7 linked regions of the Homo sapiens genome follow. The protein of the gene in region 1 interacts with the protein of each later gene in a biochemical or structural test. Each region holds a gene or a part of one and is shown on either strand. Other genes may lie near its edges.

Region 1 (4,224 bases):
CCAGAGGTGGTATTATTAAAAACACAGGTCCCTGACTTCACTCCGGACTTACTGAATCAGAATCTGTGACGTTAAGTTCTCTTAGTTTGTATTTTGAACATGCTCCCCAACTCACAACCATGGACAGATTGATCATGGAAATCTAAAACTGCAGAGAAAGGCAAACAGGATTCTGAGGATTCCGTAGGGAAACCGGAGCTGGAGGAATAGTTCTGCACAGGAAGATTGGGGATGAGGGCTGGCTTCCTGGTGAAGTGTGTGTAGGTGTGTCCATGTATGTATGTGTGTATGCATGTGCATGTGTGTGCATGTATTGTGTATGTGTATATATGTGTATACCTGTGTGCACATGTATATATGTGTACATGTGTATGCATGTGTGTGTGTGCATGTATATGTGCATGTGTGTATGGGCATGTATATGTATACGTGTGTGTGTATGTGTTGTGTTTTAGGTACTATCCTATCATTCCGACAGCCCTTGGCACACTGCAGACACGGAATTAAATGTTGAATGAGGAAATCAGATGCTTTTAGGAAACAATAAAACCTTTGTCGAAAGCTTTTGGGACAGGTTAGGGATCCAGTCATAAAGGCTTGATGGCTGAAGCACGTCACAAAAGCCCAGAGTACAAACCTTGAGAGAAGTATGGTGGCAGGGAGGCACTCTGTGGAAAACTGCTGTTACTGAGGAGACAGAAAAAGAACAAAATTTATTTGGATTGGGGTGATGGGGCCAGACAGGGGAGCTGGGTTAGGGAAGCCAGGCTGCAAATGCTTCTTGATTTGGTATCACTTTCCCTGCTGCCCCCAAAACCATGGGGGCTGGGCACAGGGACAGAACACAGCACACAGGGAATGGAACTACATTCCGCTGTGGACCATGCCAAAGTCTAACAAGCTTTATAAAGCAGAACAGCAACAACATTCAACTGTGTAAAGGGCACTTAACAGTTACTTTAAAAATTGGCTGCAACTTGAGCTCTTTGAGTTGGGAGAATACAGAAGTCCTCTTCTCAGAAGACTTCCCTTTTGCTAGGAAATTATATTAATGGGCTTGTCTTTGGTGAGCAGTGAATCCCCAGGGCTTAGGGTCTGCAAGGAGAGAGTAAGCCAGGTGAGAAGGGAAGTGCATGTTAGGTGGGCTCTGCAGCAGACGGTGATAGCATTTGCAGGGCTGGGGTGGGGAGGCGGGCCCAGAGGGCCCTGAAATGCAGTCTGTTCCCTCCACACTGAGCAGCAACTCCTGCACCCATCAGTCTAAACCTTTGGGAAAAGTCTGCTCTGCACAGCAACCTTGTGTGAGTGGGATTTTGTGCAAATGAAGGATGGGGTTGGGGCTAGCATGGAGGAAAGCAGCAGGAGGGTCAGCAGACAAGGGCAGCAGATGCCAGCGGGAAGAGGGAGAAGAGCAGCAGAAACTCAGGGCCAGAGGGTCCCAGGGCAGAGGAAACATTGTGAGAATCCTGCTAGGAGTTGGTGGGGGTAGATGAGTCTTGTGGGTGGTTGAGTTTTCTACAATATTAGGGAAGGATCTTGGCTTCTCTCCTTGAATATTAAGGGAGAAGGTAAGCCTACAGGGCTGGAGGACTTGGGGGACACCACAGGCTGCCCGTGGGCTTGTTTGGGGACAATGACTGGGCCTTTCTCCTGTTCATGCATCTGCCCCTGGGCGGCCTCATACCAGCCCTGAGAAACACAGCTGCTACTGAGAAAACAGGGGGACAGAGACTGCAATGAATTCCTAGCATCAGCCAAGCACGAGGCGCATTTTCTCAGTCTCCCCAACTAAGATGCAGATGAACTTCAAGTACTTAGACTAACTGGGTTTCTTAATTATTGTTGTTTGTTTGAACTCATAAAGTGAAAATATTCTTTGTTTTCTACCAAAAGGCCCATTCTATCTGGAGGGATCAAGGAGGAAGTCAATTCCTCACCCCTCTCACCTCAAGCAGAGACTCAGAGGACACTGGTGGATTAACATATCGTTCTTAATGCTCAGTTTGGTTTTATGTCTTAAGACCCAAAATGTTCAGACCCTACTATCTACCCGTCATTTCCTTCTTTCTCAATCTGCCTGGCATTACTTCAGTACTGGATGGACCTAAACATTATATTAAGCTAGAATTTCATGACAGAGCTACAAACCTTTCTGAGAATGCTCCAGGCATGTGAGAGGATGGGAGAGGGTTCATGGGACTTGGCTTAGTAGATCTTGAAGGGAAAGTGTTGGAGCTCATAGGAAGTAGTGCTGGCTGGGGCAAAGGTCTCTGATGCACTGTGCAGAAGTAGAAAACAATGAATGAGATTGGCAGGCCCCAGCTGTCACTAAGAAACATTCCATAACCGCCCCCCAGTTAGAAACAGCTAGTATAAAGAGGACACAAAAATAAAGCAGATCAGATGTAATTAGGAAGTAGTAGGATGGAACCTTGCTCCCAGGGTGTTTCTAGATGACTTAACCACCATAGAATCCATTTACAAAGGGGCGCAGATCTAGATGATACTCTAAAATACACATTGATTTTGTTTTTCATTTTTGAAATGTTAACTTGGCAGAAAATTGTCAGCTGGAAACCTTATAAATTTCAGAAATGATTTACAAGTTTTGTTTTATGAAAGTCAAAATTTTATGCTATCTCATTCATTGGCAGTTACTGATTCTTTACCCACGTGTGTTAGAAGACATAAATGTGAGAAATGTTTCCATCAAACCATGCATGCAATTTTACATTTTGTGATACAATTAAATAATCTGCACTGTTACACATGAATTTAGTCTTCTTCGGTAATCTAACCAAGTAATCCATTTTACGATAGTTATGCAGTATGCCAATTGACATAAGTCTACTTAATACTAATTTAAGACTTATAATTGATTCTATGGGGTTCCTGTACTAAACAATTCCACTTGAATGCCTGAGCAGGAAAATGAAAGAATGAGTTATAGGCTGTAAGAATGTGTTTCCGAACATACCATCATCTTCATCCTGGGAAGGGGAAGAAAAAAAAAGATATTAAGCTATCATCAAAATACAATTCTTAAAATAAAAACTGCATTTCTCAATCAAATAAATCAAATAGGTATCTGTTTCTTTCTCTGGCAGTTATACATCTTCATAATAAATATACTGTGGAGAATAATAGAAGTTGCTAAGTGTTTTACAATTTCTTAATACAAACAGTCATCTAAGGGCATTCCAGTATGAGACTCTCCTCATATACTCAGCATGAAATAGATTCTGAGGTGCCTAAAAGGGCCCAAAGATGTAATAATATTGACAATATCTACAATGTGTCCAAAAGATTCATACACAAGATTTCATTCAGTTCCCCTAGTGACCCCCCAAAAATTTAACATCCTCATTTTACAAAAGCATGATGCTGAGGAAGCTTCCTTAGCTTGCCAGGAGTTGCAGAGATGGATTCAACCCCAAATATGTCTGACCAAAGCTCAGTCTTCTTTTTGGCTCTCTTTTGCAATGGCCACTCTTCTTAAGATCAATAAGACCATATTTATACGGTGGCTTACAAGGTTCATCTACAACCCTCACCATTTTTATCTTCAGAGCAACCTTGGGAAATTAGACAAGGGAGGGGCTATTTTCTCTTCCACTCAGATAAGAAATGAGGTTCAAAGAGAAAAAATGATGTTGCCACCAACTAGTAGACCAAAAGGGCCAGCTTGAACTTGTTTGGTTAGGCCAGATCTGTAATGATGAAACAGCATCTTTCTCAAAGTGTTGTTAGAAGGATTAAATTAGCTACTACTTGTGTCTGGCTTATGTTAAGTGCTCTTTAATAAAAGTTTGCCATCATCAATCCTATCACACACTGAGAGAAGGCGAAAAAGGCCACAGTCAAAATCATTCATCCCAGTTGGCCAACTGGGAGTCCCAGCAAAGAGCTGCATAAATAAACACACATGGGCTCATAAACCCCACACAACAAAATCACTTTTCAATACTTTTGCAAGTATATTCCCTCTGGTTCCAGAAAACACAACTCCCAGATTCTCATGAGCACAAGTGTCAATCCTTCCAGAGACAGGGAACCTGGAATGTGATGTTATCCTCACTGTCCAGCCTTACCTCTGCCTTGTTCCTATCTCTGCAGCCAAGCCACTGTTCTCACTGTCCCTGCAGCCTCCGTGGGCACTGGTATCCACCTGCTCAGGACACTCCTGAGGGGAATCCCCATGGGCTTTCTTTAAGAATGACTCTA
Region 2 (4,224 bases), on another chromosome or scaffold:
AGTTTCAGAAACACCTGTTTTCTCATTAGCATCTTGGCATTAGCAAGCATTTTTTCAAATGAATGCATATAGAATACAGAGCATTTGAGCTTTGTTTGGGGAGAAAAAAAGCAGATGACATTAATGATACATAAAATGACACCCAAAAAATTCCCAGAATAGGAATAAAAACTGAACTCCCGGAAAAGGAAGGAACAAGCTTTACAGCCTTATTCTATTAAATATTGTTTGGTAGACATCTATGGAAGAAAGTTTAAAAACATGCATGTCTTATATAATTTAATCCTGTAACTAGCATAGGAAATGATTTAAACTCATCAGAATTTAGCTCTGATGAAATTAATTATGTAAAACCAAGAAAACACTTTCCCTAATGGAGAATTTTACCTTTCTTTCGGGGTTTTAATACCTAAGAAGAGGATAATTTGGCAAGAAAATCAAGGAAAGCTTGATACTTTTATTCTTGTCATCTCATTAGCTAAACAGAGCCTGTAGAGATAAGGTCTGCTTTATCTAGACTCCCAGCTAAATAAGAATACATACCTTGAAAATTGCTGATAGTATTTTTATACTAGACAAGCTAGTACTAAGATAAGCTAATGTCTATTGCTGAACAGGCATTACCAATCACTTTGCATTAGTTTTTTTTTTTTTTTTTTTGTCCACCAGGACAAATGTAGCACAAGAAAGTTGCTTTTAATTCCTCTTTTCCCGTTTGTGCCAGTGTAAGCATTGTAACCAAATCTTCTCTCCTATGTCACTCCTAATACAAAATAATAACTTATATTGCAGTCACGTCTATACACATCAGAGAAAAAATTTATCTTTTGTTTTACAGTACATTACATTTAGTTATGAATATCAACAAAGAGACCGATAAAGCCTTACCAATTGAGTCGTTTCTTTCACTAGCTTGCTTTCTTTCTCAGATCATTACGATTAAAACAACATTTTTCAAACTTTTGCTCATATTTTCACAAAATTTAAATTTCAACTCCTTTCTAGTTACGAATATAGTGACATTTTCACTGTGTAAATTTCCAGGTTGGATGATTGATGCTGACAGTAGACCTAAATTTAAGGAACTGGCTGCTGAGTTTTCAAGGATGGCTCGAGACCCTCAAAGATACCTAGTTATTCAGGTGAGTACATTTGACTTATGCCTTTAAGACTAGGCCAATGGCAAACTCACTGCAAAATGAGTAGTATCAGGACTTTGGAACTGTGGAAAGGACCACAAACATGTTGATTAATTAAGCAGAATTATCATGTGACATGACTTATGGAAAAGAGCTTTTTATTTCACGTCAGATCCACCTTTTAGCACCTTCCCTTAGTATTCAAGTGGCTCTGCTACTGAACAGATAATTATGATTATACATATACATAAAGAGGTCTTAATCCTCAGACACTTATTTTAGCACCTTGATTTTATTAACATTATGTGTAAGTCATGTTCATTAGTATAATTTTCTTTTTTCGGAACAAAAGGAAGACAGATTTTTGTTTTAATCTTGCCCATGCTTGAAGACAGTGAATCAAAAGTTTCAGTATATTATTTAATTTCCCCAAAAATATTTTAAAATATGTTTTGTTTTATTTGGAGAGATATGCAGTATCTAAGCAATAACTCAATTCAAATGAATTGATGCACATTTTAATCAACCAACCAAAGAAATATTTTATATTTAACACTAGAAAAATAGATAGACTTGGATAATTAAAAAATAATAATATATTTCTCTAGGATTAATTTCACCTAAACTCTAAACAAATGGGCCTTGGACTAGAGTGTATTATGTTTCCTCAGTAAAGCAAGGTAGCCTTTATTTTCATATCGACAGTCTGACATAAAGATAAAAGCTAGGTTTTAGAAGATACTTATTTCCATTTATTTTTTCCCCAAAATTAGTTTTCATGAACTGAAATTGTTTCCAAAAATTATGTAACTTTAAAAATATAGGAAAAATACTTAAGAAATAGACGAGGTGAGGAAGAGCATAACAAAGGTTTTGGTGTCTTTCTCATACTCCTTTACTCTATTTGCCACTTGCACTGTGAGTTTTGAATGCCCCTACTTTGATAATGCAGTCAGTATGCTATAGAATAAAGTATAGACCCTATGGTCCTGATAATCCTACAGCATCAAACCAACCAAATAAACGTTGATAAATTGATCACCTTTTATTGTTTATTCTTAAAGTTGCAACCCATACACTATCTGGGCAATGAACAATTATTTTCAGACCTGAAATTGATTTTACCTCCCTAAAAACATCTTTTGATTTTGCTTTATTATTCTCTAATGGCATTTATCATATTCTCCTTGTATAAAGTTTGTTTACCTGGCCCTATCATTTCTAAGCATGTTATAGGTTTCTTAATGGCCGGTGGTTGTGCTAAAGACTTGTTTTTTTAAAATGTGTGTATGAATTTTTCAACCATTTGTTATGATATTACATAAATTTATTGCAGAGACCACATATTTAAGATAAGAAAGAATCATATTTGTGTCTGATGGGCAATCTTTCTTTTAGGGTGATGATCGTATGAAGCTTCCCAGTCCAAATGACAGCAAGTTCTTTCAGAATCTCTTGGATGAAGAGGATTTGGAAGATATGATGGATGCTGAGGAGTACTTGGTCCCTCAGGCTTTCAACATCCCACCTCCCATCTATACTTCCAGAGCAAGAATTGACTCGAATAGGGTAAGAAATAATTATATACACATATCATATTCTTTCTGAGATATAAAATCATGTAATAGTTCATAAGCACTAACATTTCAAAATAATTATATAGCTCAAATCAATGTGATGCCTAGATTAAAAATATACCATACCCACAAAAGATGTGCCAATCTTGCTATATGTAGTTAATTTTGGAAGACAAGCATGGACAATACAACATGTACTCTGAAATACCTTCAAGATTTCAGAAGCAAAACATTTTCCTCATCTTAATTTATTTAAAACAAATCTTAACTTTAAAAAACAATTCCAACTAATAAAACCATTATGTGTATATAAATAAATGAAAATTCCTACCAAGTAGGCTTTCTACTTTTCTTTCTTAAAAAGATATTATGATATATTAGTCAAGAAGTAATACAAGTATAAATCTCTTTCACTTATTTAAGAAAAATTAAATATTTTCTGTCAAGTTGAAGTAGAAACACAGAAAACCGTGCAGTCCTTTGAACCTAATCACATCGAAAAGGCTGCTGAGAAGTAGATTTTTGTTTTTAAGAAGTAGATTTAAGTTTTGAAGGAAGTTTCTGAAAACACTTTACATTTTAAATGTTAAACCTACTCTATATGAATTCCATTCTTTCTTTGAAAGCTGTCAAATCCATGCATTTATTTTTATAAATTCATTCCTCATACATTCAACATATATTGAGTACCACTGTATGTGAAGCATTAGTATACATTTAAGACTCAAAGAATTTTGATACAACTTCTGCTTTCAAGAAGTGAAAACCTTAATCAAAGAATCATACAGATAGAGGGACTGCATAGTAAGTGCTGTAATCCAGTATTCACTGACCAGTACGGAGCATGAAGAAGTAGTAAATTTGTGTCTGTAATCAGTTTCTTCCATTGATAAGATATAAACATGATGCTTAATTTTTTCTAGAAGATAATTCTTTTCTCTTAATCTAAGAACATTATCATAGCTAGTAGAACCGACAGCATCCGATTTCTCTTGACCATAGCCATAAGAATATTTTCAACTTGCTGCTCATTATCTAACAAACATAATTTTCTTTATTTCATATTGATTGTAATAAGTAATATTCCCCTGGTGTTTACTATTCAACACATATATGTTAACCTCCTTAATCCTTAAACAAACTTCATGAGGTTCTATTATTATCATCCCCTTCTTTCAAAGGAAGAAACTTGCCACAGAGAAGTCAGGTGATATGACTGGTGTCACACAGCTAGTCAGTGGAAGAGAGGAATAATGTAATCTAGATATCTGCCTACTACACTGTAGGTTTGCTTCAAAGTTACTGAAGCATGTTATTTCCATGATGTGATTAGAGTCTGGGACTTGTCTTGTTTGGGAAATTTCCCAGGTGGTTTTCTTATAAAATGCATCTCAAATCTGCTCTACACCTTTTACTCATCTACCTCCATTTAGAAGATCTGATATGGAAAGAGACAAAGATGGAGACCTCAATTATTTTTTCTTTTCTGTTAAAAAATATTATAGTAC
Region 3 (4,224 bases), on another chromosome or scaffold:
TATTGACTATGATATATTATTATATACTATTAACATGCACAATCAATATCCTTTGTTAATTCCCTAGAAACGTGAATAAAAAGTATGACATCCATCCCAGTGATCTCAATTTTAAAAAGAGTGTTTGAAACAAGGAGGTGGGTCCAACCCTTCCAAGACTAATGGAGCTTAACTTACGGATGTGGTTTCATTTCTATGTAGTTCTTGGGAATGAAGCCGTCTTTTCCATTAAGCTCTGCCTTGTACCAGTTCTGATCACATTCTTCGTTCAAAACCTGAAAAGAAATAAGACAACAAAAAAACCCAATCATTTCCTTTTCCCTTTAAAAAGATAGTTACAAGACAATTATGCTATCTTTTAGGTCTGTGAACGGTTTCACTCGAAGTATTATCAGTTATACGGATATAAGACTCCTTTTAACTTCAAACAACCAGCATTATGTTAAACTCTGTTAAAATGAAACAGAAATTATCTCTGAAAATGAAAATTCAGGCTCCCAAACATCTGGAATGAAACCCTCAGTAAGGAAGGAGAAAGAAGAATGGCAAGTATTAGTTGTTTTTTTTTTTTAAGACGGAGTCTTGCTCTGTCGCCCAGGCTGAAGTGCAGTGGCGCGATCTTGGCTCACTGCAACCTCCACCTCCTGGGTTCAGGCGATTCTCCTGCCACAGCCTCCCGAGTAGCTGGGATTACAGGCGCATGCCACGTTGCCCAGCTAATTTTTGTATTTTTAGTAGAGATGGGGTTTCACCATGTTGGCCAGGCTGGTCTTGAACTCCTGGCCTCAGGTGATCTGCCCACCTTGGCCTCTCAAATTGCTGGGATTATAGGTGTGAGCCACTGTGCCCGGCCAGTTTTTTTGTTTGGTTTGGTTTTTCTAAGAGAGAAACCTGGAGAAGAGGTTCTGGAAAATGGCAAACACATAGGAGAATAAGGGAGCCTGACGAAGACAAAGTCTACTTTCTGGGAGAGAGAGGTGTCACAGCAGAACTAAGCAGCAACAGAACCTTTTATTAGACTCCTCTAGAGATCTTCCAACCGACCTCCAGAATCTACAGTGATACAGTCCTGGATCCCCTCATGGCTTCTCTGGGTTACCGCAAGTACGGGTCACCCACCAAACAGCTCCAGAACACTGCTGCTTGTGAGGACAACCATATGCCCTCGTATGGGAAAACTATTTTCAGGAAAAAGCATGGCAAATCCTACTCAGTTCAATAACCCAAATGCCACATTGTATTAAAGTTAGATAGTGCTGAAAGCATATCAACCAGCAGAATTCAGGCAGATGCCTTGGAAATCCTGGAACTGAACCACTGCATTCTACAGATGTAAAAAAACAAGATCAATGGTCAACCCAGGTTACGAGGTAGTGACCCCACAGAGCTAACATCATGCCCAGACTTTCATATTTCCAATGACCGTTCTCTCCAATGCTGCCTCTTGAATTGCATGTACCAGGCCATGCATAGGCTAGGCCATGACGCTGTAATGTGTAGAGTAATACAGTAGTCCTCCTTATCATGATGGATACGTTTCAAGACCTCCAGTGGGTGCCTGAAACCGTGGATAGTACAGGACTCTAGATATGCTATGCTTTTTCCTACACTATACACATACCTATACGTTTTATTTTTTTTTAGATTTATTTATTTATTTTTTTTTGAGACAGAGTCTCGCTCTGTCGCCCAGGCTGGAGTGCAGTGGCGCGATCTCGGCTCACTGCAAGCTCTGCCTCCCGGGTTCACGCCATTCTCTTGCCTCAGCCTCCCGAGTGGCTGGGACTACAGGCGCCTGCCACCACGCCCGGCTAATTTTTTGTATTTTTTAGTAGAGACGGGGTTTCACCATGTTAGCCAGGATGGTCTCGATCTCCTGACCTTGTGATCCACCCGACTCGGCCTCCCAAAGTGCTGGGATTACAGGCACGAGCCACCGTGCCCAGCCGATTTATTTATTTTGCCCAGGCTAGTCTTGAACTCCTGGACTCAAGGGATTCTCCTGCCTCAGCCTCCCAAAGTGCTGAGATTACAGGTGTGAGCCACCATGCCAGTCCTACCTATAAGTTTAATTTGTAAATTAGGCACAGTAAGAGATTAATGATGACTAGTAGTAAAATAGAAAAGTTTTAACAGGCCAGGTGTGCTGGCTCAAACCTGTAATCCTGGCAGTTTGGAAGGCTAAGGTGGGAAGACTGCTTTAGCCCAGGAGTTTAGGACCAGCCTGGGCAACATAGTGAGACCCTGTCTTTATATTTAAAAAGTGTAAAAGAAAAGTTATAACAATATACTGTAATAAAAATTTATGTGAATGTGTTATCTCTCAAAATATCTTTTTTTTTTTTTTTTGAGTCAGGGTCTTGCTCTGCTGCCCAGTCTGGAGTACAGTGACACCATCACGGCTCATGGCATCTCAACTTCCTGGGTTCAAGCTATCCTCCCATTTCAGCCTCCTGAGTACCTGGGACTATAGGCACTTGCCATGTTGCCCAGGCTGGTCTTGAACTCCTGCGCTCAAGTATCCTCCTGCCTCAGCTTACCTAAGTGTTGAGATTACAGGTGTGAGCCACTGCGATTGGCCAAAATATGTTATTTATATGTTGGATTGCAACTGGCCGCAGGTAAGGGGGGACTAGTATATACGGAGCAGAACAGAATCAGGTACAGCGTGAAAGCCACCCTATGAATTCTAGACTTACAACAAAAGGCAAAGGGCAGAAGGCATAAAGTTGGTAAAAGATAAAACAAAAATGTGAATACAACCCCAAAATGGTGGGCCCAGGAAAATGTTGGCTAGTACAGTGGTAATCTACACTGCATAACAAAGTTCTGAGAGGAAACTGGTAACATTCTTTACAAAATGATTTATTCAAGATGTTGAACAATGCTGTACTCGTAGCCAATCAGAAGCTGGATTGCTCTAAAGTGAGTGCTGTCTGTGTACTGCCATTCAAAGTGAGATGCAATAGAAAGGGTAGATAAGAATGACAGATGATCGACAACTAGCCAGGCTGCATTAATGACTACGCTTTCTTAACAGAGGGTATGCCCTGCAGAGCTTTGCAATGCTGGTGCTTATCTGCTATGCTTACCACACTCTGACTGCAGGTGCCAGACACTGGGTTTCAATGCTTAGGATAAGGTGATAAATCCTGAAAGAGCTAATAAATATGTGTAGCAAACTCTCAAAAAAAATTAGCTAGTGGTAAATCCCAGTGTATTCAAAGTTTCCAAGAGTCACATAAATATTGATAGAGTATTGATGAAAACTTTCTTCTAGTCATCATTTTGTTTCTCGTAAAAAAATCACATCAAAGACTGGAATGAGATAAAACAATATATGCAAGGTACACTCATAATTTTTAAGTCTTCATTTTAAAAACACTGCATTGTGCTGCAGCCAGCAATGGTGCTGTATTGATAGACAATTATAAAGCACACACCAAGGACAAGTTTGAGGAGGGAAAGTGCGCTTGAACCCTGCCGGGCCACCACCACCTGCCCCTGTACTGGCAGCACAGAAAACTCTGAATAGCCTTTGAGAAAAGGAGCTACTTTAAAAGTTATTTAAGGCCAGGATTCTGTTATCTACCAAAAATAAGGTCTAGAAGGAAAATGTGGTCTAATAATGACCTTATAAAGCATCATCCTATAGTAATAATAAAAACCCCACAGGCTTATAAACAATATTTATTATTTTATTTCAGAGACAGAGTCTACGTTGCTCAGGCTGGAGTAGCTGGGACTACAGGTGCGTGCACCCATACCAGCTATGAAGAGTTTTTGAAAATGTCTTAACTCCTGAAATGGTGAGGTGTGTCTACTTTTACTGTATACACTTGTTCTTGGAAGACAGAGAGTCAGACTGACAAAGAGCTGCTTGTAACCTATTTGTGCATCAAAACAGAACAAAGTAATCATTAGAAAGGGACACTTTTGATTTGTGACCAATAACTTTGCAGAAAAAGATAACTCTATTTACCTGCCAGGAGTTCATAGAGCTACACTCTCTTCTTGTCACCTTTACCAAGACAGAGGCAAATCCCTCTAAAAAGTGTCCCCTCCCCCAACAAACACAACTCCAGGGCAACTCCTAGATTTGACATCAACTTAGAACTATGGCTGTCTACAGAACAAAAATTATTACTTGGTGTTTAGTATGTTTTTCTCCCCCAGAAAGAAGGAAAATATGGAATTAATGCTTTTAAAAATGTAATTTTTTTT
Region 4 (4,224 bases), on another chromosome or scaffold:
AGGCCCGTGCTTTTGAATGGCTGAGCAGTCCCAGCCGCTGGGGAGGGGGCCCATCGTCACATTAGCAAGGCAGAGTTCAGAATCTGCCCTGAGTCCTGTGGCAGTGCTAAGACAGAAGATGCTTCTTGTTCAGGACATCATTTCTCAAGGTCAAGCAAAAACTGGTTGGGAGGAGAGGGTGCAAACAAGGAAGCATGGATGAGCCAAGGTCTGGCGTAAAACCCGCAGCCAGCAGACGTTTGCAGAGATGACCAGGGGCATCTCCAGTCTAGGCTTCCTGACCTGCCAATTCTCAGGACTCCTCTGGCCCAAGCAGGCAGGAAGTTGTCAGGACTCCCCGTTCCTCCTGGGACCCCCAGGATTTTCCTTCCCTCCCCTCTGCATCCACATGCCCACCTCACCCTTCGCAGCTTTCCTGGGCCCTCATCACCACTCCTCCCTTTACTCTGTTTCTCGCCCTGTTCCCATCCCTGGTTGTCCACATTGTCGCCACTTCTCATCTGTTCCCAGCGCCCCTGCTCTGCCTGGTGATTGCTGCTGTGGTGGCCTCAGCAGGGAGGGTGGGAGGGATGGAGGGAACGCCCCACTGTCGCTTCTCCCCATGCAGACTCCAGGCCCCTGCCTTTCGTCACTCCACCATTCTCCTGGTGCCAGTTGGGTGGTGAGGTGGGGCTGGGGAAGGGCTCCCACCGCCATTCCTCACTTCCTTCTAGAGCAGGGGTTCTTCTGCAGTGTGGCCTGGACCTCCACCCACAGCAGCAGCAGCACCTGGGAGCTCCTTAGAAATGCGAATTTTCCTGGGGGTGAGGCCCAGTAAAAGGCTCGCAAGCACCCCAGGTGATCCAGTTGTATGCTCGAGTGTGAGAGCCACTGGCCTAGAGCTTGGGTTCCCGCTGTTCTACTCAAGGTCAGCAGCAGCCCTGGGCGAGATAGGAAGAGAGTGGCAGGTGGATAAAAGGAAAAAGCTGGCTTCCATCCCCTGCCTTCTTCCTCATCCACCATATAATTCATTATTGCCCCAACCCATAGCCTCATTTATATGGATGTGAATGTCTGTGAGAGAGCGCGAGCACACACAGGAACGCATGCTTACCCGGACACTGGCACCCATGTACACACGCTCGCCCACCCAGCTCTCCTTAAGAGCTTTTCAGCTCCTAGATCTTATACAACTTGCGGATTCTTCATCTCATAGAAGCAAAGATTAGGAATAGTAGTTAGAGTCTAGATTATGGTAACTTCAGCTGTGATCGATTATGCTGTTATGGGCCCACCTGGGAGTCTTCCTTCCCCACACCCATGCCTGCCCATTTATAACATCATTTCTGGGATATTAGCACCTGCATTGCAAGTTCCTGGCAACCTAACACAGTGACCCATCTCACTGGGGGCTCATCAGACGTGAATGAGCTGCATTGGATGGAAACAGCTGACTTCCAATACACTTTTGGATCATTGCACAGCATGAACTATCTGCTGTGTATTACTGGCTTCCAATCAAGAGTCAGAGAATTTGTGAGGCCAACTAGCAAAGGTTTGTGTGCTGTTTACATCACAACTTTCCTTGTAGAATCCTGGAGCATGAGATAGCCTCTTGGAACGTGCAGGCTGTGAGAAGAACAGGGAGCAAATCACATTTGCAGTGATTTGGGCTGCAACCTGAGACAAGTTGGGTATTTAAAGAAATACATGAACACCAACTTGCTTTCTGACTACTCTTAGCTATAGCTGAGCCAGGCATATTGTTCTAGGTAGCATCTACACATTCTATCCCTGCAGAAAACCAACTATTGATGCCATTCTTCCCTCCAAATGTCCTAAGTTTATTTGTAAGAATAAGAAAGATTTGCAGAGCTGGGCACAGTGGCTCACGCCTGTAATCCCAGCACTTTGGGAGGCTGGGGTGGGCATATCGCTTGAGGCCAGGAGTTCGAGACCAGCCTGAGCAACATAGCAAGATCCCATCTCTTATGGGAGCAGCCAGACATAGTGGTGCATACCTGTAGTCCCACCGATTCCAGAGGCTGAGGCAGGAGGATCTCTTGGGCCCAGGAGTTTGAGACTTCAGTGAGCTATAATCATGCTACTGCACTCCAGCCTGGGCAACAAGGTGAGACCTCATCTTAAAAAATAAATAAATAAATAAATAAAAAGTTTGCAGAGCTAATTTTCAGCATATTATTGTTTCTGTGAACCTAGCAGCCAGAGGCTTTGCTGGTTCTAAAATAGTTTCAGAAATCAATAGCCTTATCTATCTCTGACCAGATTTAAGTCTGTTCCCTTCACATGACAAAGGGTGATGCCTTTCCACGTTTCTCATAGCATGGCACACCTTTACCAATAATGATTTACAGCACCTGTGTTGTAAGGATGAGGCTGCTGTGGTCTTTTTCAACCAGTTCCCTTCCTGCCTTGAGCTAAGGGAATTGATATCTCACAACCTGCCTATAGCCCTGTGTAGGTCACCAGGCAGGAAGCTCTGCACATGGCTTTGGAAGATTCCCAGTGCCCCTAAGATTCTGGGACAACAGTGTCTAATAGAACTTTCTGCAGTGCTGGAAGTGTTCTGTATCTCCTATTGGATATGGTATCCACTGGCCACATGTGGCTATTGAGCGCTTGAAATGTGACTAGTCAACAAGGAACTCAATTTAGTGTATTTTATTTTACTTAATTTAAATCTAAAAACAGTAGCTCCCCTTAATCTGTAGTTTTGATTTCTGCAGTTTCAGTTACCCACAGTCAACCACAATCCAAAAATAGGTGAGAACCATACAAGATATTTTGAGAGAAAGGAAGAGCACATTCACATAACTTTCATTATATTATATTGTTTTATTGTCAGTGGTTATTGTTAAATTACTGTACTTATAAATTAAACATCATCATAGGTATAACATATATGGATAGGAAAAGACATAGTCTATATAGGGTTCAGTACTACTCATGGTTTTAGGCATCCACTGGGGGTCTTGAAATGTACCCTCTGTAGATAAGGGGGGACTATTATAGGAGATTCTGTTTTCTGTTTCTGCTGTTTTAATTTTTTGAAAAAGCCATGGATCTTCTCCTCTGCTCTGCAGTCCAGATTCTTAGCAATGTGATGCATTTGTTTTTGTTTTTGTTTTTGTTTTCAGCCTTCAGACAAGGAGATGTTCAGCCGTTCAGTTACTAGCCTGGCAACAGATGCTCCTGCCAGCAGTGAGCAGAATGGGGCACTCACCAATGGGGACAGTAAGTTCTGCAAAAACACCAGCTTTCCACACAGGCCTCATCACCTCTGGAAGTCCTAGGTTTCAAAATACATAGCTCAAAAAGTAGGAAATGTGTTATTGCTCAGTTTTAGTATTCCTAGCAGTTTTAGCAGAACCCCTCATTTGGATGAATACTGCTACTTATTAATCCACTTCTGTGTGCCAGGCATTGTTCTAAGACTGGTACATGTACTAATTCATTTGCTCTTTTAGTACATTTTAGTACATTTACATGTACTAATTCATTTACCCCACGAGATTACTGTTATTAATAATAACACTACTCTGTAAGATAGGTATTATTACTCCTCACAATTTAAAGGTGACAAAACTGGGCACATTGCTGCTGTAACAATATTACCACAAACCTCATGCCTTAAAATAACAATTTATTGACTTGCAATTCTGAGGTCAGGAGTCTGAAATGGGTCTCACTGGGCTAAAATCAGGGCATCCGTAGGCCTGTGGTCCTTCCTGAAGCCTCAAGGAGAATCCATTGGCCTCTCCCTCATTCTTCACATCCCTCTCTGACCCTCCCCCCTCCCTATTCACTTATAGGGACCCTTGTGATTACACTGGGCCCACCTGGATAATCCAGGCTTCCCTCTCATCCGGGAGTCATCTAATTAACAGCCTTAATTCCACCTGTAGCCCTAATCCCTCCATACCCTCCACAAAACATTACACATTCACAAGTTCCAGGAATTAGGAGACAGACATTTTTCAGGGTCGTTCTGCCTTCCACAGAGATGTTGCTAATTTGCCTGATATCATATAGTCAGCGGGCTAAGGATCTGTAGTTGGAACCAGGCAGTCTGATCCCTGGGCACGCACTCAGTCACTCTGCATAACCTCTGCATCATGCATTGTGTACTCTTGCTGATGGAAGGAGCAGCTAGGTTTCCTTCATGCTTTAGAGTTTACACCATGCTTTTACCTGAGGTAAGAGGGCGTCCTGTTACCCCTGTTT
Region 5 (4,224 bases), on another chromosome or scaffold:
TGCCACCATACCTGGCCTTTTCTTTTCCTTTTTTTTTTCTTTTTTCTTTTTTTTGAGGGAGAGCCTGGCACTGTCACCCAGGCTGGAGTGCAGTGGCGTGATCTTGGCCCACTGCAACCTCTGCCTTCCAGGTTCAAGCGATTCTCCTGCCTCAGCATCCAAAGTAGCTGGGATTATAGGCGCCTGCCACCATGCCTGGCTAATTTTTTGTATTTTTAGTAGGGATGGGGTTTCACAGTGTTGGCCAGGCTAGTCTCGAACTCCTGACCTCGTGTGATCTGCCCGCCTCGGCCTCCCAAAGTTCTGGGATTACAGGTGTGAGCCACTGTGCTTGGCCAGCCCTTTTTTTTTTTTTTTTTTAAGATGGAGTCTCGCTCTGCTGGCCAGGCTGGAGTACAGTGGTGCGATCGCAGCTCACTGCAACCTCCACCTCCCAGATTCAAGCGATTCTGGTGCTTCAGCCTCTCAAGTAGCTGGGATTACAGGCATGTGCCACCATGCTTGGCTAATTTTTGGGGGCATTTTTAGTAGAGACGAGGTTTCACTATCTTGGTTAGGCTGGTCTCAAACTCCTGACCTCAGCCTCCCTCCCAAAGTGCTGGGATTACAGGCATGAGCCACTGCGCCCGGCCAATTTTTAAATTTTTTTTGGGCTGCGTGCAGTGGCTCACGCCTGTAATCCCAGCACTTTGGGAGGCCGAGGAGGGCAGATCACGAGGTCAGGAGATCGAGACCATCGTGGCTAACGTGGTGAAACCCCGTCTCTACTAAAAATACAAAAAATCAGCCGGGCGTGGTGGCGGGCGCCTGTAGTCCCAGCTACTCGGGAGGCTGAGGCAGGAGAATGGCGTGAACCTGGGAGGCGGAACTTGCAGTGAGCCAAGATCACGCCACTGCACTCCAGCCTGGGCGACAGAGCGAGACTCCGTCTCAAAAAAAAAATTTTTTTTTGTTGTTTTGTTTTGTAGAGGCAGGGTCTGGCTGTGTTGCCGAAGCTGGTCTTGAAATCCTGGCCTCAAGTAATCCTCTTGCCTTAGCCTCCCAAAATGCTGAGAATACAGGCCTGAGCCACTGCACCAGGCCCTTTTGCCCATTTTTGAATTCATGTTTTTTTCGTTTGTTAAGTGTTGAGAGTTCATTATTCCAGATAGTAACCTCTTAGCAAGTAAATGGTTTGTGAGTATTTTCTCCTCTTCTGTAGGTTGGCATTTTGTTGTTGTTGTTGTTTTTTGCTATTGTCTTTTTCTTTTTTTTTTTCCCCCGAGAGGAGAGTCTCGCTGTGTTTCCCAGGCTGGAGTGCAGTGGTGCAATCTCAGCTCACTGCAACCTCTGCCTCCCGGTTTCAAGCGATTCTCCTGCTTCAGCCTCCCAGGTAGCTGGGATTACAGACGCCCGCCACCATACCCAGCTAATTTTTGTATTTTTATGTAGAGATGGGTTTTCACAGTGTTGGCCAGGCTGGTCTTGGACACCTCACCTTAAGTGATCCAGCCACCTCGGCCTCCCAAAGTGCCGAGATTACAGGCGTGAGCCACTGCACCCAGCCTATTTTAAATTTTTACAGTAAATATTGCAGTAGCAAAATGGTTTTTTTGCTTTTTTTTTTTATTTTGACGGAGTCTCACTCTGCTGCTGTGGCTGGAGTACAGTGGCGTGATCTCAGCTCACTGAAAGCTCAGCCTCCTGGGTTCAGGCGATTCTCTCGCCTCAGCCTCCCAAGTAGCTGGTACTACAGGCACCCGCCACCACGCCCGGTTAATTTTTTGTATTTTTTTTTTTTTTTTTTTGAGACGGAGTCTCGCTATGTCCCCCAGGCTGGAGTGCAGTAGCGCGATCTCGGCTCACTGCAAGCTCTGCCTCCCGGGTTCACGCCATTCTCCTGCCTCAGCCTCCCGAGTAGCTGGGACTACAGGCGCCCGCCACCACGCCCGGCTAATTTTTGGTATTTTTAGTAGAGATGGGGTTTCACCGTGTTAGCCAGGATGGTCTCGATCTCCTGACCTCGTGATCCACCCGCCTCGGCCTCCCAAAGTGCTGGGATTACAGGTGTGAGCCACCGCGCCCGGCCTATTTTTTGTATTTTTAATAGAGATGGGGTTTCCCTGTGTTAGCCAGGATGGTCTCGATCTCCTGACCTCGTGATCTGCCCTCCTCGGCCTCCCAAAGTGCTGGGATTACAGGCGTGAGCCACCGCGCCCGGCCCCTTTTGGTTTTTGTATGTGTTTTTTTTTGGTTTGTTTGAGGACAACTGCTTAAGCAAAGTAGGGTTTTTAAGTGAAAGCCTTTCAAAGTTTGAGGAAAGGGGATTAACTGATACATTGGAACTTTAATGTTGACTATTATAGGCATGCTTCACTGCGCTTGACTGAATTTTTTTTTTTTTTTGCATTTTTAGTAGAGACAGGTTTTCACCATCTTGGTCAGGCTGGTCTCGAACTCCTGACCTCAGGTGATCCACCTGCCTCAGCCTCCCAGAGTGCTGGGATTACAGGCGTGAGCCACTGCGCCCAGCCAATGTAAAAACATTCTAAATGGCTAGTTGAGTTTGTCCAGATAGGGATCGTAACTGAAGAAGCTGTGGCTATTTAGCTAATACTGGTGGTTGCACCTTTCCTTGTCAGACTCCAGTCTAGCTGTCCCACGTGTAGCTCCAGTTTAAAGTCACTCGCATGCCTTTGCTCATGCTTCTGCTTAAACCTGAAGTGTGTTTTGTTTTCTCCTTATCCATTGAGATTAGTTCAAATTTGACTTTCCCTTTAATTGCTCCTCCTTCTGGGTCCCTGAAATACTTTATTTGGAATAGCACTTCATTCTTCTTCTTCTTTTGTTTTTGTGCTCTCTTGCCCAGGCTGGAGTGCATTGGCACAGTTTCACCTCACTGCAACCTCCGCCTCCCAGGTTCAAGGGATTCTTCTGCCTCAGCCTCCTGAGTAGCTGGGATTACAGGCATACGCCACCATGCCCGGCTAATTTTGTGTGTGTGTGTGTGTGTGTGTGTGTGTGTGTGTGTGTGTGTGTTTTTAGACGGAGTCTTGCTCTGTTGCCCAGGCTGGACTGCAGTGGCGTGATCTCGGCTCACTGCAGGCTCCGCCTCCTGGGTTCACACCATTCTCCTGCCTCATCCTCCCAAGTAGCTGGGACTACAGGCACCTGCCACTGCTCCCGGCTAATTTTTTTGTATTTTTAGTAGAGACGGGGTTTCACTGTGTTAGCCAGGATGGTCTCGATCTCCTAACCACGTGATCCGCCCGCTTCTGCCTCCCAAAGTGCTGGGATTACAGGCTTGAGCCACTGCACCCGGCCTAATTTTTTGTGTTTTTAATAGGTTTTGCCATGGTGGCCCGGCTGGTCTTGAACTCCTGGCCTCAAGTGATCTGCGCGCACGCATCAGCCACCCAAAGTGTGCTGATTACAGGCATGAGCCACCACAGCCAGCCTCCTCCTTGTAAAATAGTTATGTATTTGTCTACCCTCCATTTCTAAATTTTTAAGTTGATGTGGACTTAGATTATGTCTCTTTTTTTTCTATTGGTATATCGTATCGTTTGTTGGACATAGTACACAGTACTCAGTAAGTGTGGATTTTCTTTTAAAACTGTAAATGGCTTACATAATCACATTTCCATGGCGTCTGTGTTGCCTTTTATTTTCTTTGCTTCCCTGCCTCCATTAACGTGAAATTAAATTTTTTTAAACTTTGAGGTATTGTCCAAGATTTTCTTTTTGCATTAATACTTTGTTAAATATCTCAACCTTGTAATCCAGCACTTTGGGAGGCTGAGGCGGGCACATCACGAGGTCAGAAGATCAAGACCATCCTGGCTAACACGGTGAAACCCTGCCTCTGCTAAAAATATAAAAACAAATCAGCCGGGTGTGGTGGCGGGCGCCTGTAGTCCCGGCTACTCGGGAGGCTGAGGCAGGATAATGGTGTGAACCCAGGAGGCGGAGCTTGCATTTAGCCTACATCCCGCCACTGCACTCCAGCCTGGGTGATAGAGCGAGACCCCGTCCCCCAAAAAAAAAAAAAAAAAAAAAAAATTTTTTTTTTTTTTTTTTTTTTTTTTTTTTTTAAAAAATCTTGGGGGTGGTAGTGTGTACCGTTTGTCCCAGCCACTCAAGAGGCTAAGGTTCGGAAGATTGCTTGAACGCAGGAGTTCAAGTCCAGCCTGGGCAACATAACGAATCCCTTAAAAAAAAAAAAAAAAAAAAAAAAAAAAAAAA
Region 6 (4,224 bases), on another chromosome or scaffold:
CATAATTTTAGATCTACACTAAAGTTGCAAGAATGGTATAAAATTCCCCATATACTTTTTTTTTTTTTTTAAGACAAAGTCTCACTCTGTTCCCCAGGCTAGAGTGCAGTGGTGCAATCTTGGCTCACTGCAACCTCCGCCTCCTCTGCCTCCCGGGTTCAAGCAATTCTCCTGCCTCAGTCTCCTGAGTAGCTGGAATTATAGGTGTGTGCCATCATGCCCGGCTAATTTTTGTATTTTTAGTAGAGACAGGGTTTCACCATGTAGGCCAGGCTGGTCTCGAACTCCTGACCTCAAGTGATCCACCCGCCCCAGCTTCCCAAAGTGTTGGGATTACAAGTGTGAGCCACCGCGTCTGGCCCCCCATACACTCTTTTACCCAGATCCTCCAAATGTTAACATACCACATATGGCCGGGCACAGTGGCTCATGCCTATAATCCCAGCACTTTGGGAGGCTGAGGCAGGTGGATCACTAGGTGTGGATCACGAGGTCAAGAGATTGAGACCATCCTGGCCAACATGGTGAAACCTCATCTCTACTAAAAATACAAAAATTAGCTGGGCGTGGTGGTGTGCGCCTGTAGTCCCAGTTACTCAGGAGGCTGAGGCAGGAGAATAGCTTGAACCTGGCAGGCAGAGGTTGCAGTGAGCCGAGATCGCGGCACTGCACTCCAGCCTGGTGAAAGAGCGAGACTCTGTCCCCCGCCAAAAAAAATACCACATACGCTTTATCACTTCTCTCTCTCTCTGTCTCTCTCTACACACACACACACACACACAAAACACATGCTATTGTTTTTCTGGACCACGTGAGGGTAAATTTTCACACATGGTTCTTTCTTACCCCTGTTATATTTCAGCGTATATTCCTTAAAAATAATATTTTCTTACATAACCACAGCATAGTTGTTTGAATCGGAAAATTAACATTAACACAAAATATTATCTAAGCTACAGACCTTATTCAGATTTCACTAATTGTCCTCCTAAGGTTTGGGATCATACATTACATTCAGTTATCGTGGCACTTCAATCTCCTTTATAACAGCTCCTCAGGTTTTGTTTATCTTTCATGATATTCTTGATGAGTATAGATTAGGTAATGGGCAGCATGTTCTTCAGTTTGGATTAGTTTGATGTGTCCTCATGATTAGATTCAAGTTTTTGTAGTTTTTTTTTGAGACAAGGTCTGGCTCTATTGCCCAGGCTGGAATACAGTGGCATGATCTCAGCTCACTGCAACCTCTGCCTCCCGTGCTCAAGCGAGCACCTCAGCCCCCTGAGTAGCTGGGATTACAGGTGCATGCCACCATGCTTGGCTAATTTTATATATATATATATATATATATATATATAAATAATATATATAAATATAAATATATATATATAAATAATATATATAAATATATATAAACATAAATATTATATACTATTTATATATTTATATATGTGTGTGTATATATATATATATTTTTTTTTTTTTTTGAGACGGAGTCTCGCTCTTGTTGCCCAGGCTGGAGTGCAGTGGCGTGATCTCAGCTCACGCAACCTCCACCTCTCAGGTTCAAGCCATTCTCTATAGAGACAGGGTTGCACCATGTTGTCCAGGATGGTCTCGAACTCATGAGCTCAAGTGATCCTCCTGTCTCAGCCTCCCAAAGTGCTGGGATTATAGGCATGCGCCGCTGCCAGGCTGGAGTTTGATAAGAACACCACAGAGGCTGTGAGCTCAGGGCATCCTATTGAGGATGTACGTGATGTTGATTTGTCCCAGCACTCACAATGATGTCTCTGGTCACTTAGTTAAGGTGATATCTGTCAGGTTTTTCTACTGTAAAGTTACTATTTTTCCATTCACAATTAATGAATGTCTTGGGATAATTGCCTGAATCAATTATTGTTATGATAGTTGCCAAATGATAATTTTCTAATTCCATTATTCCTTCTGCATTTGTTTGTTGGCATTCTACTGTTAGGAAGAGTCTTTCCAGCTGAGCACAGTGGCTTATGCCTGTAATCTCAGCCCTTTGGGAGCCAGTGGGAAAATTGCTTGGGCCCAGGAGTTCAAGGTTACAGTGAGCTATGATGGCACTACTGCTCTCCAGCCAGTGCACTCACTCTGCACAACAGAGTGAGACCCTGTCTCTTAAAAAAAAAAAAAAAAAAAGGCCAGGTGCAGTGGCTCATGCCTGTAATTCCAGCACTTTGGGAGGCCGAGGCGGGCGGATCACAAGGTCAGGAGTTCAAGACCAGCCTGGCCAGCATGGTGAAACCCTGTCTCTACTAAAAATACAAAAAATTAGCCAGGCATGGTGGTGTGCTCCTGTATTCCCAGCTACTTAGGAAGCTGAGGCAGGAGAATCACTTGAACCCAGGAGGTGGAGGTTGCAGTGAGCTGAGATTGCTGCCACTGTACTCCAGCCTGGGCGATAGAGCAAGACTCTGTCTCAAAAAAAAAAAAAAAAAAAAAAAAAAAAAAAGGTCTTCCTTTCCTATTTACTCTTATGGATACTTATTTTATTCTAGTCAATGGTTATAATCCTTTACAATCATTATTTATTTTAGCCAGCCCCTCCAAGTTGGCTCCTGTGTTCTTTGGGCTGTACCCTTAATTCTTTGAGTCTTGTCTTGTTTGCACAAGATGCTCTGGGCTTATATTATATTTCCCCCATCCCAGCCATTTCTCCAAGGAATGTTTCCTTTTAGTGGAGAATGATATTTAGAAACCAAATGCTGAGGCTGGGTGTGCTCATTGCCATTGAGTTATACCTTTACCTTATTGACTGGTTTCTACTGTTCTATTCAGAGACCCCTGGCACAAGATCCCTGCCCTGGACCCAGAGAAGCTCAATGTCTTCCGGACAGTACGGGAGATCACAGGTGAGTGGCAGAGAGTTTGCCCTTTCTAGAAGAATAGGTGAACCACTGGCATAAATTGCGGTATAACTACTTGAGAAAATCACGTCCCAAGTTATAGGGGAGGAGCCAGGAGAACCCAAGAAAGAAGAAGGCTCCCTGCCCATATGCCTCTCTCCAACCCCTCAGGTTACCTGAACATCCAGTCCTGGCCGCCCCACATGCACAACTTCAGTGTTTTTTCCAATTTGACAACCATTGGAGGCAGAAGCCTCTACAAGTGAGTAAAGGGTATGGAGGAAATGGCATCTTCAGGCAATGAAGCCTGTGTCATAGGCATTCTTTAGTAAAATACAAGGCACTGTCTCATACAGCAGTGCCTCAAAACCAAAGGGTTTCAGAGTTTCACGAGGAAAAGGCAAAAGGAGGGGGATTCCCTCTCAGTGGATCTGACTAGCACTGAGCAAATTTCTTGACTAACATGAATCCTTTGAATAGTTAATGTTCCCTTAGTAGTCTCTCCTCTCATCCTGTCTCCTTATTCTCAGCCGGGGCTTCTCATTGTTGATCATGAAGAACTTGAATGTCACATCTCTGGGCTTCCGATCCCTGAAGGAAATTAGTGCTGGGCGTATCTATATAAGTGCCAATAGGCAGCTCTGCTACCACCACTCTTTGAACTGGACCAAGGTGCTTCGGGGGCCTACGGAAGAGCGACTAGACATCAAGCATAATCGGCCGCGCAGAGACTGCGGTGAGGGAAAGGGTCTGCTAGGTGGTGAGAATAGGGAGTCAGGGAGGAGAGGGCTGAAAGGACTATTCTGCCCTAGACGTGGGAGTAGGGTTGAGGGATGGAACCAAGGAGAAGGGGGCTGTTAGGCTGGAAGCAGTAACGAGGAAGAATAATGAAGAGAGGGCTTGCTGGGAGTCCTCAGACTCCTCTCCTAACCCACCCCTTCCTTTCCAGTGGCAGAGGGCAAAGTGTGTGACCCACTGTGCTCCTCTGGGGGATGCTGGGGCCCAGGCCCTGGTCAGTGCTTGTCCTGTCGAAATTATAGCCGAGGAGGTGTCTGTGTGACCCACTGCAACTTTCTGAATGGGTACAGTAAGGGGAGCCAGTCAAGGATGGGTGGGGGTGGGGCCCTGCAATGGAACTGTTCAGGTGGCATACAATAAAAGTCTTTAGACAGCTTTCTGCATGTGCCTTGGTGGGATTGAGGTAGGAGACCTGTGGTTGTGAGATCGGAGCATGAAGGTCAGGACTTGGAAGTGACCCCCCCCTCCCTTTATTCCCCACTACAGGGAGCCTCGAGAATTTGCCCATGAGGCCGAATGCTTCTCCTGCCACCCGGAATGCCAACCCATG
Region 7 (4,224 bases), on another chromosome or scaffold:
TCAAACTGTGTGATAAGAGTCTGTGCATTTTATTTATTTCATTTTATTTTTTGAGATAGAGTCTCACTCTGTCAGCAGGCTGGAGTGCAGTGGTACGATCTTGGCTCACTGCAACCTCTGCCTCCTGGATTCAAGCAATTCTCCTGCCTCAGTCTCCTGAGTAGCTGGGACTACAGGTGTGTGCCACCATGCCCAGCTAATTTTTGTATTTTTAATAGAGATGGGGTTTCACCATGTTGGCAAGGATGGTCTCGATCTCTTGACGTCGTGATCCGCCCACCTCAGCCTCCCAAAGTGCTGGGATTACAGGCATGAGCCACCACACCCGGTGCATTTTATTGTATATAAGTTATACTTCAATAAGAAATGAATTGGGGCCAGGCACGGTGGCTCACGCCTGTAATCCCAGCACTTTGGGAGGCCGAGGCAGGCAGATCACTTGAGGTCAGGAGTTCAAGACCAGCCTGGCCAACATGGTGAAACCCCATCTCTACTAAAAAATATAAAAAATTAGCCAGGCTTCCTGGCATGCGCCTATCATCCCAGCTACTTGGGAGGCTGAGGCAGGAGAATTGCATGAACTCGGGAGGTGGAGGTTGTAGTGAGCTGAGATTTCGCTATTGCACTCCAGCCTGGGCGACAGAGTGAGACCCTGTCTCAAAAAGAAAAAAAAAAAAAAGGGTCAGGCGCCGTGGTGCACACCTGTAATCCCAGCACTTTGGGAGGCTGAAGCAGGAAGATTGCTTGAGCCCAGGAATTCAAGAACAGCGTGGGCAACATAGTGAGATCCCATCTCTACAAAAAAACACAAAAAATTAGCCGGGCATGGTGGTACGCACCTGTAGTCTCAGCTACTAGGGAGACTGAGGTGGGAGAATCACCTGAGCCTGGGAGGTGGAGGTTGCAGTGGGTTGAAATCATGTCACTGTACTCCAGCCTGGGTGACAGAATGAGACCCTGTCTCAAAAAAAAAAAAAAAAAAAAAATTCCCTTTCACACTTCCTTTACCTCCACTCCCCTTTCCAGAGGGGGCCATGGTTAACAGTGTGTGTGTTCACCTAGACCGTTTATGCATCTGTAGACACACACACAGTGAAGTGTGGTTTTCGTCGTTTTGGTGGGGAGGTTGGTTTCTGTAAATGGGAACATATAGGGAGCACTGTCTGCACCTTGCTTTGAGAGCCGGTCATGACAGTTCCCATTGAACTGCCTTGTTCTTTCAATAGCTGCAGAGCAGGTGGCGGCAAGGAGAGGCAGCTAAGAGCCCAGACTTGGGAGCCAGACTGCCTGGGTTTGAAACCCGGCTCTACCACTTACTAGGCATGTGACCCTTGTGCTGTGCCTCAGTTTCTTCATCTGTAAAGTGGGGGCAAGAACAGTCCCAACTTCATAAGATGGTTATACCACCATGCCTGGCCAGATGATTATAAAGTTTGAATGAGTTAATATTTGTAAAGCTCTTAGAACAGTGCCTGGCAGATACTAGGTGCTCCTAAATGTTGGTTTTTATTATGTGGCTGGGTGGCTCGGGGTTTTATTTAACAGCTCCCCTATTTACTAATAGACATTTAGATCATGTTCCATTTTCACTCTTACAAACAGTTCCACTTTGTGTGTGGCTCTGGGAACATGGGCCAGTGTCTCCCTAGGCCACATTCCTAGAAATAAGATTTCTTTTCTTTTTTTTTTTTTTTTGAGACAGAGTCTCGCTTTATCGCCAGGCTGGTGTGCAGTAGTGTGATCTCGGCTCACTGCAACCTCTGCCTCCCGGGTTCAAGTGATTCTCCTGCCTCAGCCTCTCGAGTAACTGGGACTATAGGCGCGCGGCACCACACCCAGCTAATTTTTGTATTTGTAGTAGAGATGGGGTTTCACCATGTTGGCCAGGATGGTCTCCATCTCTTGACTTCGTGATCCGCCCGCCTCGGCCTCCCAAAGTGCTGGGATTACAGGCGTGAGCCACTGAGCCCAGGCAGAAATAAGATTTCTAGATCAAAGGATATAAATACTGTTTTGATAGATGTTGCCGAACTAAGGCCTGGGCTTTGAAGCCCAGGATGGGAACAGCTGGGCTCGATGGGCAAAGGGTTTGAGTGAAGGCATTCATGGTGGGGAGTGGCTGGCATGGCCAGTGCTGGGAGTGATGTCCACCCTGTTCCTGGCCCTGCTGACTCCTCTCCTGACCCCTCCAGGGACCCAGCCTCCAACACTGCCCCGCTCCAGCCAGAGCAGCTCCAAGTGTTTGAGACTCTGGAAGAGATCACAGGTGGGCTCTGTCTCTGCATCCTGTTCTGCAGGGGCTGGGAGTCCTTGTCCTGTCCCCACTCCTTTAATCTCACCCTCTGCCTGCAGGTTACCTATACATCTCAGCATGGCCGGACAGCCTGCCTGACCTCAGCGTCTTCCAGAACCTGCAAGTAATCCGGGGACGAATTCTGCACAAGTGAGCACTGAGAAAGAGGGGGCCTGATGGGGAGGAGTCCCAGGGAGGAGTCCCTGTGGGAAGCTTTGGGCCTGAGGGAGTACTCCTGTAGCAGTAACCTTTCCATGAAAGTCTGCAGAGTGTGCTGGGGATGGAGGAAGATGAGAATAGCCTTTGCTGACCGGGAAGGGGTCCGTGGTAAGGTGCCCACCTTTCTCCCATAGTGGCGCCTACTCGCTGACCCTGCAAGGGCTGGGCATCAGCTGGCTGGGGCTGCGCTCACTGAGGGAACTGGGCAGTGGACTGGCCCTCATCCACCATAACACCCACCTCTGCTTCGTGCACACGGTGCCCTGGGACCAGCTCTTTCGGAACCCGCACCAAGCTCTGCTCCACACTGCCAACCGGCCAGAGGACGAGTGTGGTAAGACAGGGAGCCCAGTGTGCGCACTCCCCATCTGCCAGCACACAGCAGTGCCCAGGGGGCCCTGGCAGCAGCGTTCTTGGACTTGTGCAGACTGCCCGTCTCTGTGCACCCTTCTTGACTCAGCACAGCTCTGGCTGGCTTGGCCTCTTGGCATGGCTTCTCTAGCTGGGTCCTACCTGCCTTGGCATCCTTCCCTCCCCCTCTGTTTCTGAAATCTCAGAACTCTTCCTCTCCCTACATCGGCCCCACCTGTCCCCACCCCTCCAGCCCACAGCCATGCCCACAGCCAGTTCCCTGGTTCACTTGGACCTGGGGCCTCCCCTAAAAGTCCCCTGCGGTCCCTTCCTCCTCACTGCAGTGGGCGAGGGCCTGGCCTGCCACCAGCTGTGCGCCCGAGGGCACTGCTGGGGTCCAGGGCCCACCCAGTGTGTCAACTGCAGCCAGTTCCTTCGGGGCCAGGAGTGCGTGGAGGAATGCCGAGTACTGCAGGGGTATGAGGGGCGGAGGAGAGGGTGGCTGGAGGGGTGCATGGGGCTCCTCTCAGACCCCCTCACCACTGTCCCTTCTCTCAGGCTCCCCAGGGAGTATGTGAATGCCAGGCACTGTTTGCCGTGCCACCCTGAGTGTCAGCCCCAGAATGGCTCAGTGACCTGTTTTGGACCGGTGAGCTGCTGGCGGGCTCAGAGCTGGGTGGAGGGGGGCAGCGAGGGGGATTGCCAGGGACTTGGCAGGATGGCGAGATGCAGTAGGGTGTGCTATCTGGTAAAATATCCCTGGAGAGGGCTCAGCGCTCAGACCTGAACAGCAACAGAGTGGCAGAAAAGGGGCCTGGGGGACACTGGGGCCCTTCAGACTATGAAAAGGTTCTAAGGAGGTCTGTGTTGGTGGCTGTGACTGTGGCTGTGCTAGGGTGGTGAGCCCTGTGGGCTCAGGCGTCAGACTACCTGGATTCAGACCCAGCTCCTGCTTCCAACCTTGGTTTTTTATTCCTAAAATGGGTATTGTAATAATACCTACCTTGCTGGGGTGTGGCAAGAATGAAATTAAACAGGGCTTGGCACAGTGAAGCACGGGAAAGGCTTTCTACAGAGCAGTGACTGTTGTTACTCGCTGTTACACCTTAGGTAATGCGTTTTCCTCTCTGGGTGCCTCCCATTTTCTGGCTCAAGTCCCTGCCCAGGATCAAGCTTGGAGGAGGGCCCCGAGGGAGGGGCCACAGAGACTGGGTGAAGAGCAAGGGTGTTTGTCCCAGGAGCATGGCGAAAATTGCTGCTGGGTGGCCTTGGGAAGCACAAAGGGGACCCAACTAAGGGCCTGATCCTACTGCCCTGGGGGTGTCAGTGCCAGCCCCCCACAAATCTTTTCTGCCCCCCCC

What was found.
Region 2: the proteins of LCP2 (region 1) and ERBB4 form a complex in vitro, tested with the Homo sapiens proteins (one large-scale study listed by BioGRID).
Region 3: the proteins of LCP2 (region 1) and GRB2 form a complex in vitro, tested with the Homo sapiens proteins (4 studies listed by BioGRID and IntAct, with this or other methods).
Region 4: the proteins of LCP2 (region 1) and PAG1 form a complex in vitro, tested with the Homo sapiens proteins (one study listed by BioGRID).
Region 5: the proteins of LCP2 (region 1) and YWHAE form a complex in vitro, tested with the Homo sapiens proteins (one study listed by BioGRID).
Region 6: the proteins of LCP2 (region 1) and ERBB3 form a complex in vitro, tested with the Homo sapiens proteins (one large-scale study listed by BioGRID).
Region 7: the proteins of LCP2 (region 1) and ERBB2 form a complex in vitro, tested with the Homo sapiens proteins (one large-scale study listed by BioGRID).

Annotation. Positions count from the first base shown.
Region 1 is NC_000005.10:170,255,889-170,260,112, forward strand, and holds part of LCP2 (lymphocyte cytosolic protein 2), read right to left. Parts: intron 2,991-4,224; coding exon 2,978-2,990; intron 2,279-2,977; coding exon 2,149-2,278; intron 688-2,148; coding exon 638-687; intron 1-637. UniProt on the Homo sapiens protein: Adapter protein primarily involved in signaling pathways within T-cells, as well as other immune cells such as platelets, mast cells, and natural killer (NK) cells.
Region 2 is NC_000002.12:211,418,925-211,423,148, reverse strand, and holds part of ERBB4 (receptor tyrosine-protein kinase erbB-4 isoform JM-a/CYT-1 precursor), read left to right. Parts: intron 1-1,044; coding exon 1,045-1,142; intron 1,143-2,537; coding exon 2,538-2,708; intron 2,709-4,224. UniProt on the Homo sapiens protein: Tyrosine-protein kinase that plays an essential role as cell surface receptor for neuregulins and EGF family members and regulates development of the heart, the central nervous system and the mammary gland, gene transcription, cell proliferation, differentiation, migration and apoptosis.
Region 3 is NC_000017.11:75,332,523-75,336,746, forward strand, and holds part of GRB2 (growth factor receptor-bound protein 2), read right to left. Parts: intron 276-4,224; coding exon 178-275; intron 1-177. UniProt on the Homo sapiens protein: Non-enzymatic adapter protein that plays a pivotal role in precisely regulated signaling cascades from cell surface receptors to cellular responses, including signaling transduction and gene expression.
Region 4 is NC_000008.11:80,986,380-80,990,603, reverse strand, and holds part of PAG1 (phosphoprotein associated with glycosphingolipid-enriched microdomains 1), read left to right. Parts: intron 1-1,337; exon of another isoform or gene 1,338-1,534; intron 1,535-3,137; coding exon 3,138-3,234; intron 3,235-4,224. UniProt on the Homo sapiens protein: Negatively regulates TCR (T-cell antigen receptor)-mediated signaling in T-cells and FCER1 (high affinity immunoglobulin epsilon receptor)-mediated signaling in mast cells.
Region 5 is NC_000017.11:1,354,966-1,359,189, reverse strand, and holds part of YWHAE (14-3-3 protein epsilon), read left to right. Parts: intron 1-4,224. UniProt on the Homo sapiens protein: Adapter protein implicated in the regulation of a large spectrum of both general and specialized signaling pathways. Binds to a large number of partners, usually by recognition of a phosphoserine or phosphothreonine motif.
Region 6 is NC_000012.12:56,089,939-56,094,162, forward strand, and holds part of ERBB3 (receptor tyrosine-protein kinase erbB-3 isoform 1 precursor), read left to right. Parts: intron 1-2,808; coding exon 2,809-2,882; intron 2,883-3,047; coding exon 3,048-3,138; intron 3,139-3,406; coding exon 3,407-3,612; intron 3,613-3,825; coding exon 3,826-3,958; intron 3,959-4,160; coding exon 4,161-4,224. UniProt on the Homo sapiens protein: Tyrosine-protein kinase that plays an essential role as cell surface receptor for neuregulins.
Region 7 is NC_000017.11:39,713,094-39,717,317, forward strand, and holds part of ERBB2 (receptor tyrosine-protein kinase erbB-2 isoform a precursor), read left to right. Parts: intron 1-59; coding exon of another isoform or gene 60-176; intron 177-2,192; coding exon 2,193-2,266; intron 2,267-2,352; coding exon 2,353-2,443; intron 2,444-2,625; coding exon of another isoform or gene 2,626-2,646; coding exon 2,647-2,846; intron 2,847-3,177; coding exon of another isoform or gene 3,178-3,207; coding exon 3,208-3,340; intron 3,341-3,421; coding exon 3,422-3,512; intron 3,513-3,973; coding exon of another isoform or gene 3,974-4,075; intron 4,076-4,224. UniProt on the Homo sapiens protein: Protein tyrosine kinase that is part of several cell surface receptor complexes, but that apparently needs a coreceptor for ligand binding. Essential component of a neuregulin-receptor complex, although neuregulins do not interact with it alone.